Regions from separate parts of the Homo sapiens genome. Here region 2 is linked to region 1. Evidence: fine-mapped expression QTL. A gene starts in region 1. The other region holds a variant in brackets. All regions are shown on one strand. Distances are between the middles of the regions. Region 1 holds the start of LDAH (lipid droplet associated hydrolase). Region 2 overlaps GDF7 (growth differentiation factor 7).

What was found. PIP is the estimated chance that this variant, and not a neighbour inherited with it, causes the effect.
Region 2: its variant is the best candidate, but not a certain one, in a credible set for the expression of LDAH in macrophages (Nedelec 2016, PIP 0.72).

Annotation. Positions count from the first base shown.
Region 1 is chr2:20,820,013-20,825,481 of GRCh38, reverse strand. It overlaps LDAH (lipid droplet associated hydrolase), which reads left to right and starts at 2,381. Exons shown (of 7, transcript NM_021925.4): 1 at 2,381-2,445. RefSeq lists enhancers at 2,198-2,587, 2,808-2,877, 2,680-3,505.
Region 2 is chr2:20,677,518-20,682,803 of GRCh38, reverse strand. GDF7 (growth differentiation factor 7) reads right to left here. Exons shown (of 2, transcript NM_182828.4): 2 at 3,561-5,286. It also overlaps a transcript of LDAH not described here. Among named protein-coding and RNA genes, the nearest start is that of GDF7, 13 kb to the right of the region's middle. The variant G/AG (reference allele first, on the strand shown) is at 2,916.

The DNA of each region.
Region 1 (5,469 bases):
ATTGAAGGCTAAACTCTGACTACTATTCTTTGTTCTAAATTTCTTCTTGAGGTGCTTAAAGGAGGCCATGCCCATGAGCCCAAGCTAATATCCTTTTCTGCTGATATCAAATTTTTAGAGAGTTTCACCTTCTTAACAAATCACAAATCAGAAAATCCTTAAATTCCACCTATGACCTGTGGGCCCCCCTCTTTGAGATGCCCCGCCAATGCACGGCAGGCAAGCCCCAAATTGGGGATTTGCCCAGTAGAGTTCTTAGCTTCGCCAAGAAAGAATTCAAGGGTGAGCCGGTGGTGTTAAATAGCAACTTTTACTGAAGTAGTAGTGTCCAGAAGCAGCAGAGATACTGCTCCTTGCAGAGCAGGGCTACCCCATAGGCAGTGTGTCCAGAGTAGCATCTGAAAGGCAGTTCTTCTGTCATATTTATAATCATTTTTAATTACAGGCAAATTAAGGGGTGAATTATGCAGAAATTTCTAGGAAAAGGGTGGTAACCTCTGGGTTGTCAGGTTGTTGCCATGGAAAGGGGCATTAATATGGAAAGCTGCTTCCTCCCTGCCCCTGTTTTAGCTAGTCCTCAATTTGGTCTGGTGTCCAATTCCTGCATCCTACCTCACTGCATTTTTAGGTTAAGCCAATATATAACCTCCATATATTGATTTATGACTTTGCCTATAACCTCTGACACCCCTGCATTTAAAAACCCTTACCTATAAACAATTAGGGAGTTCAAGACTTAAGCACTAACTGACCAGTTCTCCTTGCTTGGGACCCTACAATAAATGCCTCACTTTCTTTCACTATAATCCTGATGTCAGTGTTTGGTCTTGCTGCACAGGCAATTGGACTCCAGTTTGGTTTGATAACAGCTCTTGAGAGATTGGAAAAGAGAGAGTCCCTGAGAGAGTGGGTTGTTTTCCACCTCCTGTTTGGTCTGTTTTCACATGTATCAGCTTCCCCTTTGACCTTCTACCATGTTGTGACACTGCACAAAAAACTCTAACCAGAACTGAGCAGATGCTCACACTATGCCCCTTGAGCTTTCCAATGTGCAGAACCATGAGCTAAGTAAACCTCTTTTTTAAATCCAAGCATACTTTGAAGATATTGGGGGTTCAGTTCCATACTACCACAATAAAGCAAACATCACAATAAGGCAGTTCACAGAATTTTTTTGGTTTCCCAGTGCATATAAAATTTATATTTACACTGTACTGTAGATTATTGTGTACAACAGTATTATGTCTAAAAAAAGTACATACTAAGAAAAGAAAAATAGCCCAGAGCTGTCTGAGCTATGTGAGGTATGCAAAATTTATTAGACCCGGACAGAAGTGAATACTGGCTTCCGCCACGCCTTCCCATGCCTTAGGGCAATTGTTAAAGGCATTTTGTTCTTTATTAGCTGCCTCACCCATTATCTTTATGTTCCTGGAATTTGTGATACAAGGAAGAAAGCATAGCCAGTCAATAGCTTAAGTTTTTTAAATATAAATTCTTGGTAAACAAGTTAAGCTCTGCCTCCTCTCCTTTCCTTAAAAACCGGCTCACGCCTGTAATCCCAGCACTTTGGGAGGCCGAGGCGGGTGGATCATGAGGTCAGGAGATCGAGACCATCCTGGCTAACAAGGTGAAACCCCGTCTCTACTAAAAATACAAAAAATTAGCCGGGCGCGGTGGCGGGCGCCTGTAGTCCCAGCTACTCGGGAGGCTGAGGCAGGAGAATGGCGTGAACCCGGGAAGCGGAGCTTTCAGTGAGCCGAGATTGCGCCACTGCGGTCCGCAGTCCGGCCTGGGCGACAGAGCAAGACTCCGTCTCAAAAAAAAAAAAAAAAAAAAAAAAAAACCTACTCCGACTGCTGCTAATTGGAGTGTATATTCAAGGCAACTTGAATCTAAGCTCCTGAGTGGCCATTCTCAAGCACTGAGCCCAAATAAACTCTATACTTAATATTATTCTCTGAATTTTCTTAAAGTTGGCAACACCTTAATTAAAAAAATACTTTATTGATCATGCTTATGAACATGATCAAATGAGAATCAACTTTCCTGTGTATGTGGGGAAGATATGCAACTAGTAACGCAGAAAGAGGGAAATGGGAAGAGGGAGAAAAGAGGGGCAGACATGGAACAAATGAGAGAGAAGGAAAGGGAAGCCAGAAGCCAGAAGCACATCAAGGATGACAGAAAATAAAAGGCGGATAAAATTCAAATGAAAAAGAAAGGAAAACCCCGACACCCTCCAAGAGGTCTCTCTGATCTGGACCACCGGCTCCAAGCCAGTAAGAAATCTCCCAGCCAGCTGTGCGCCGCGCGCCAGGCTGACATCGGCTTCCCGGATCAGCTCCGGCGCGGTACTGTGACGTCACCTGAGGGGGGCACTTCCGGTCTCGTGCCGCCTTCCCAGGACCCTCAGGGAGAGCGGGCAGCCTTCCAGGTGGACAGGTGAGGTACAGCTTGCCGAGCTCAGGGTGACTGCCCAAAGGAAGGACGGGTGGGCAGGCACGCGGGATCTGGCGCCCCTTCTTCTCTATGGTTCCTCGCAGAGCCCCTGTTGCCCTGGGCCAGATGGCCCGTAGCAGCAAAAATAATACTGTTCCGACAGCTCGCGAGTTCGGAGCCACTTGGCCTGGGAGTCCCTTGAGTTGCAGGCCGGGCAGTCGCTCACCCGAGCGCGGTAATGCAGCATTTGAACCCCTAAGTGTAGCCCACCTGTAGGGAGTCTTATGGTGCCCCCGCGGAGGAGTAGAGGCCAAAAAGTTGGGCAGCTGGCCGGGAAGAACTCGCTAGGAGGGGTCAAACTCTGGGCCGGGAGTGTTCTTTGCCCCCGGCGTTTAGTGCTCACGCCGCCTTTTATTCACGCTGAAGACCTTAACCGTAAACCCTCATCCTTGGGTCTTAGTTTGGTTTTGTTCCCCACGCAAGACAGAATGCAGATTGGAACACTTTATTCCTTGGTTAATTCGTATCTTCCCTCGCAAGTAGTTACCGGACACCTGCTTTGTGTCCTGTGTACCAAACACAAGAGTTGATAGTCCTGGCCGGGCGCCGTGGCTCACGCCTGTAATCCCAGCACTTTGGGACCCCGAGGCGGGCGGATCAGGAGGTCAGGAGATCGAGACCATCCTGGCTAACACGGTGAAACCCCATCTTTACTAAAAATACAAAAATAAATACATAAATAAATAAATTAGCCGGGCGTGGTGGCGGGCGCCTGTAGTCCCAGCTACTCGGGAGACTGAAGCAGGAGAATGGCGTGAACCCGGGAGGTGGAGCTTGCAGTGAGCCGAGATGGCGCCACTGCACTCTAGCCTGGGCGACAAAGTGAGACTCAGTCTCAAAAAAAAAAAAAGAGTTGATAGTCCTTGAGTTGAAAGAACAAATCTGTATGGAGAAAGAGATACAACCAAAAGAAACCCAGAAGATTTAGAAGCATCTCCAGAATGTTTATTCTCAAAAGCTGTTTTTTAATTAAACTTCTTTCTGAAACTATACGTAGGAGTGTCTCTTGTGTGTTTCCCCATTTTTCCACCTGAAGGTTAAAGACTTAGAAACCTGCTAAGGCCCCTCTTTCCAGCATGTAGCATTCTAGGGGGATAATCAGGGCAACACAGTGGGTGCCCATCTAAAATTTTATATTTTAATATTTTGCTTTTTGATAACTTAATGCCTTCAGACTGGAGGATTTTTTCTTTCTTTTTTTTAATTTTTTTAAAATTATACTTTAAGTTCTAGGGTACATATGCACAACGTGCAGGTTTGTTACATATGTATACATGTGCCATGTTGGTGTGCTGCACCCATTAACTTGTCATTTACATTAGGTATATCTCCTAATGCTATCCCTCCCCACTCACCCCACCCCACAACAGGCCCCGGTGTGTGATCTCCCCCTTCCTGTGTCCAAGTGTTCTCATTGTTCAATTCCCACCTATGAGTGAGAACATGTGGTGTTTGGTTTTTTGTCCTTGCGATAGTTTGCTGAGAATGATGGTTTCCAGCTTCATCCATGTCCCTACAAAGGACATGAACTCATTCTTTTTTATGGCTGCATAGTATCCCATGGTGTATATGTGCCACATTTTCTTAATCCAGTCTATCATTGTTGGACGTTTGGGTTGGTTCCAAGTCTTTGCTATTGTAAGTAGTGCTGCAATAAACATACATGTGCATGTGTCTTTATAGCAGCATGATTTATATTCCTTTGGGTATATACCCAGTAATGGGATGGCTGGGTCAAATGGTATTTCTAGTTCTAGATCCCTGAGGAATCGCCACACTGACTTCCACAATGGTTGAGCTAGTTTACAGTCCCACCAACAGTGTAAAAGTGTTCCTGTTTCTCCACATCTTCTCCAGCACCTGTTGTTTCCTGACTTTTTAATGATCACCATTCTAACTGCTGTGAGAAGATGTCTCATTGTAGTTTTGATTTGCATTTCTCTGATGGCCAGTGATGATGAGCATTTTTTCATGTGTTTTTTGTCTGCATAAATGTCTTCTTTTGAGAAGTGTCTGTTCATATCCTTCACCCACTTTTTGATGGGGTTGTTTGTTTTTTTCTTGTAAATTTGTTTGAGTTCTTTGTAGATTCTGGATATTAGCCCTTTGTCAGATGAGTAGGTTGCAAAAATTTTCTCCCATTCTGTAGGTTGCCTGTTCACTCTGATGGTAGTTTCTTTTGCTGTGCAGAAGCTCTTTAGTTAAATTAGATCCCATTTGTCAATTTTGGCTTTTGTTGCCATTGCTTTTGGTGTTTTAGACATGAAGTCCTTGCCCATGCCTATGTCCTGAATGGTATTGCCTAGGTTTTCTTCTAGGGTTTTTATGGTTTTAGGTCTAACATTTAAGTCTTTAATCCATCTTGAATTAATTTTTGTATAAGGTGTAAGGAAGGGATCCAGTTTCAGCTTTCTACATATGGCTAGCCAGTTTTCCCAGCACCATTTGTTAAGTAGGGAATCCTTTCCCCATTTCTTGTTTTTGTCAGGTTTGTCAAAGATCAGATAGTTGTAGATGTGTGGTATTATTTCTGAGGGCTCTGTTCTGTTCCATTGATCTATATCTCTGTTTTGGTACCAGTACCATGCTGTTTTGGTTACTGTAGCCTTGTAGTATAGTTTGAAGTCAGGTAGCGTGATGCCTCCAGCTTTGTTCTTTTTGCTTAGGACTGACTTGGCAATGCAGGCTCTTTTTTGGTTCCATATGAACTTTAAAGTAGTTTTTTCCAATTCCATGAAGAAAGTCATTGGTAGCTTGATGGGGATGGCATTGAATCTATAAATTACCTTGGGCAGTATGGCCATTTTCACAATATTGATTCTTCCTATCCATGAGCATGGAATGTTCTTCCATTTGTTTGTGTCCTCTTTTATTTCATTGAGCAGTGGTTTGTAGTTCTCCTTGAAGAGGTCCTTCACATCCCTTGTAAGTTGGATTCCTAGGTATTTTGTTCTCTTTGAAGCAATT
Region 2 (5,286 bases), 140 kb after region 1:
TTCTCCTGTAGTTGCACATGTCCTCCAAAGTTCGTGTGTTAGAGACTTAATCCCCAATGCAACTATTGGGAGGTGGGTCCTAACAGGAAGTGTCTGAGTCATGAGGGCCCTTCCTTCCTGAATGGATTAATGCCAGTGATAAAAAGCCACAATATTAGGCTGCAAGTTTGATCTCTTGTTCTCTCATGCTCTCTTGCCCTTCCACCTTTTGCCAGGGAGGATGTAGCACAAAGGTCCTCACCAGATGCCAGCCCCTCAATCTTGGACTTTCCAGCCTCCAGAACTGTAAGAAATAAATCTCTTCTTTATAAATTACCCAGTCTCTGATATTCCATTATAGCAACAGAAAATGAACTAAGCCAGATTCCAATTCAGGCCTCTACTCCAGAGCCACCACTTCATCCCCTTTTTCCACTGCATCATGCTGCCTCCTGGAGGCCACAGTGGGCAAGCCTAGCAAAAGTGGAGAGCCGGGAAAGAGAGTCACGCAAAGGGCAAATGAGGACCCGATTGACAGAAGAAGTGACGAGTAGATCGTTGGTAACAAATGAGTAGTTTTAAAAGAATGAAAGCTATAACAGAGACCAGTTTTCAGACGGCAAAAATATGCATCAGGCAGTGGATTGAGAGAAAGCAAGCCCACATGCTGGGAGTCAGTGCTGTGGCTGCAGCCACATGGCCGGCACCTCTGCAACTCTTCCATAGCCACCTGGTCTTATGCCACGCACGGGAGCTTCCTGTGGACTCCTCTGTACAGGAATCACTGCTCCAGCTTTGATTACGCCCATCCTCTACCCCACCCCATGAGACGTGGCCTAAAATACCAACTGCTCCTGCCTCCCAGAGCGGTCCTTCCCACCCTTCCATGCCCTGCCAGTCTTCATGACCCCTGGCCTGGCCTGTGTCTACTGAATGACTTATCATTGCTGCGGGATTGTGTCTCTGCAGTCTGCTCCTCCCTGCCTCCACCAACACCCCTTCTCTCAGGAGAGTCCTAGAAGATGACCTTCTGTCTTAGTCATCTCTGTGCTGTCAGGGCATATCAAATATGGCCTGCTACACAGGGTAGTCTATAAATTTTGTTATCTAAATTAATAAAAAGTTTCTACCATACCTAATAGGCAAGCTGTGAAAAAGTGCAATTCTCACATTGGGTCGGACTACCAGGAAATCACATCTCTGGGCTTCTTCATCTTAAAACTGACACATCAGTGGGAGTGCAGACATGGACACTTGCTCTTTTATCCCTTAAGTGTTTCCCCAGCAGAGCTGTGCACAACTGGGTCAGATAGATTCAAGGATGTCTGAATCTTTGCAGACTGTTTGTGTCTGGCACTGGGGGACTGCAAGGAAGCAAGGCCACTATCCCTTGTGTCCCATTCATCTTGTCTGATATGGCTGCAACTGTTACTTCCATTCTTCTACAATTAGAAAACCTCTGGAGTTTGGGTATTAGCAACTACCAAATATGTAGTTTATTATTTGCTGAGCACTAACCCCGCGCAGCACCCCGAGTGGGAATTACAGCAACAATACACATGACTGTGCTCTGGGATAATCGAGCATTTTCATTTTGTGTTGCATTCCTCAAACATTCTGGCAAAGGGGCCTGTGCTGACCTCCCCACATTGGGACAGATTTCCTTGCTGGGTAAGTCTATGGGAAAATTCCTCTTCCCTGGGATGAGAATGTGACCCTGTGACTGGGCGTCCATTACAGCCAGGGGGTGCGGTGCACCTGCAGGGTCTCCCTCCCTCACAGAGGGACTAGAATCCCGCCTCTGCAAATCCATCCAGCTCAGGCTCTGCAGAACATCTGGGCTTCCTCCTACTGGCCACTGTGAAGGGCCACGCACCTGCATGTGATTAGGACTCGGCAGACACCCACAGCCTATAGGGCTGCATGCTGGTGGCACCTCACAGTGGACAAGTTTCTCCCCAGATCATTGTCCTTTCTGAGCAGATGAGTCACAGGGTTCCTAGGACACAAGAGCACATGCATCCATGACCACGTTGGGCACCACCCTCAATGGAACAGCAGTTGGAGGCATCTTTGCCTTGGCCTGCTTGGAAATGAGCAGGCATCAGAGGCAGATCCAGGACCTGACAGGACCAGGGAAGGAGTGGAGAAGTCAATCTTAGCCGCCTTTACCATTAGTCATGGACGGGCCTTTTAGATTTGCTCTTATCAGTGTCTGGGAAATTGGATAAAATTTTTAATGCCACTCCCGACTTTCCTTTCTCCCTGTAACTACTCCTCTACTGAATGTGTACTCTAACCACAGAATGCTGTGGTAGGTCAAATGGAGACTGAAAAATAAGAAAATGAAAAATGGACCAAAGATGCTTATAAACAAAGCATGACAAGACATTCCAGTTTTCGATGGCAGGGTCATAGAACTTACACATTGATTGTACCTGCCAAATGAGTTAGTTGGAAAGGGAACACAATTTCTCTTCCAAAGAAGAGACTCCTTTATTTATAATAGGAAATCGAGTGGTGAAAAGAAGGCAGGCTTTCTTGATCTTTCACCAGAGAGAGAAAGTTACATAACCACAGGGACCTGCATTAACAAACTGGGATATTGAATTCACCATGAACATGGGCTGCCATCACTGACGAAAATGTGGGTCACTCCAGCAGGCTTCATATCGCAAAAGAGGTAATCCTGGTAACAGTCACTAATAAGGCCAAGTCCCTGTCAACTTCCTACAATTCCTGCTCTGTCATTAGTCCTCTCCCAGAAATATTTAAGGAACACATGAAATAGATTTCTCCATCTGGGCAAAAGTCAGCTGTGAGAGCTGGGATAGCAACAGAACGCTGTGTGGTTGATCCTGTCCTGCTGCATCCTTCGTGGTGTCACCAAGCACAGGCTTTTGTACTTGTCTCGAAGAGTACTGGGCAAAAAAAAA[G/AG]GCCTGTCGAATTTGCTGTAGGACCTTATTGGGTTCTGTGACGTATGTAATTGGCCTTGCAGAGGAAGCGGCTTCCATGGGACTTTATGCCTTGGGATTTCAGAGACTTACCTGTGCATCCTCCAGGTGGGGAGGGCTCATGCTTTCTGGAGTGAGACAGGTCCTGCAGCAGTCTGAGATGTATAAACACAGAAAACCTGTCCACCCAAACTGCATTTGGAATGACAGTGCTCACTCTACACATTATCATGCTCATTTCCCAAAGAGAAAATGTTTTCCACTGCATTTTGGCCTCCTTTCCTGAACCCAAGCTTGATGTTTTTTACCTTGCTCTGCAGTGACTTCATGCCGTGTGAGGCTGTGTGCAGCAGCATCATATACAGTTTCATACCAGTCACCAAGACCCAGGGTGCAGCCCCCCATACCAGAGGCCCACAGCCTCACACCTGATCTGACAATACAGGGGAATGATCGGCACAAAGGCAAGTGGAGTCAGGCCTGTTATGTCACTCTCACTATTAAAATGCAGTCAGTCCTAAGGCCTCAATAGCTGGTCGCTATTCTATTAATGAGGACTACAGTAACACAGAAAGGCTGAGTAACAAAAGCTGAAAATGTTTTCCTTTAGAGACCAGTCATGAGCGGTTTTATGAATAAAATATTTAATCAACTTATCTGTACAAAATATTAAAATGGTTAATGAAGAGTATACAAGCATGTTCAACAAATATATACTGCTATATAATAGTTAAGAAAAATAGAGATTGCTGTTTTACATGTCATTTACATTTCACTATGTACAATCTATTTAAATTTGAGAATATATATACACATAGGTTTCTACCAGCCCTGGGAGGGCTCCCTGCTAGCTGGCCTGGGCATCGGCAACACCTCACAATGTCAGCTTGCATTGCCCAAATAAACACCCAAGCCAGGCAGCAAGGAGACAGCCCAGCCTGCAAGCCTCGGAGTTCTGCTGTGGCTACACCAGCAGGAAGACTGCTGATGAAGGAGATTTCAGTTTGCCTTAAATGAGTTTCTAATGTCCCCCCACACTCCAATCTCCTTACTCCCAAGCCAAGCTAAGAAAAAGTGGGTGTCACTGCAAAGCGAAAGGATTTCTATCCCCTCACCAAAATAATTCTTTTTGTCTTTAGCTGCTGAGGAAATGGCATGTTACTGAGCCTTGATGGCATTACTGGCACTTTGAGTTTTACCGTTTCCTTAAAATCACAGTACTGGAATCAGATGAAATTTGCTTTCTAAGCTGCAGCCACTCGTCATGTGCAGAATTCTGCTGCCCACCCAAGTCCTGCTTAAACAGCCGCATTTTATAAGCTGGTACGGGAGCTCTGCAACAACCTTCACAGAGAAAGGATCTGCTGCTTTATTTGTATACAAAAAGAAAAAGACAGTCCAAACTTTTCAGAATCCCTTATTGTCATCTGCTGAAAGGGCAAGTTGTAGTTAGCATGTTAATCCTTGTAAAAAATGCATTAACTTTTCATTTAGGGTGAAATGCTTCCAGCTAAAAGACCTAAAGTGACTCAATTATGATTCTTCGTCAAAGAAAACATAAAAGCTGTTTGCATTACAGTGTAAAGTGAAATACAAAAATAAAATTATTCTAAGGATGCTCATGTTTAATCCATGATTTATCCAAGGCAGAGAATGCCAGAGAATTCCTCTCTTGAGAGTCTCTGTTCCTGGCTTAGAACACTTGAGTATTTCCCCTCCAGAAAACATATTTTATCCTGAGCTTTCTTTCTCACTGAACTGCATCATCATTTTCTAAACAGAATGCTGAAGAGCTGACTTTGAGTCTGACAGGCCCTGACCCAGGAAATGAGCCCTGCTTGTGGGCAGCCCCTTCCTCAAGCCAGCCTACTCACCCCAAGCCCAGCTGCTGCTGCTGCTGCTGCCCCAGGCCAGGGGAGGATCCAGGACACATGTGCGTTGTCTGGCCTTGGCAGCCCTCAGTCACTCAGAGATAAAAAGGTGCAGGCAAGGGGAGGCCCTCAACACACCTGGTCACTGCTTTTCAGACTCATTCACCAAAAAATCCAGGCATGGGCTGCCCATAGCCCATGAGCGGTCTCCCCAGGATGACCTGTGAGTACTAAAAACCAGAGAAAAGGTGTGTGCAGTTGCACCAGCTCACCAGCTTCGGTGCTGTCGCTTCCCATGTTGCAGCTCAGGAAATGTCCTCGAGGGAAGTTTAGCCCCGTTTGCTTTGGATTCGTTCCTGTTTCCTTCTAATTCAGCAGGATGCCTGTTAACGAACCTTACTCGGAAGTCTCGCTTTGGTCAGCCATGGTTCTAGATTCTGGCAGCCAAAGGTCTGGGCAGGAGCTAGATGCAGAACTGGTTG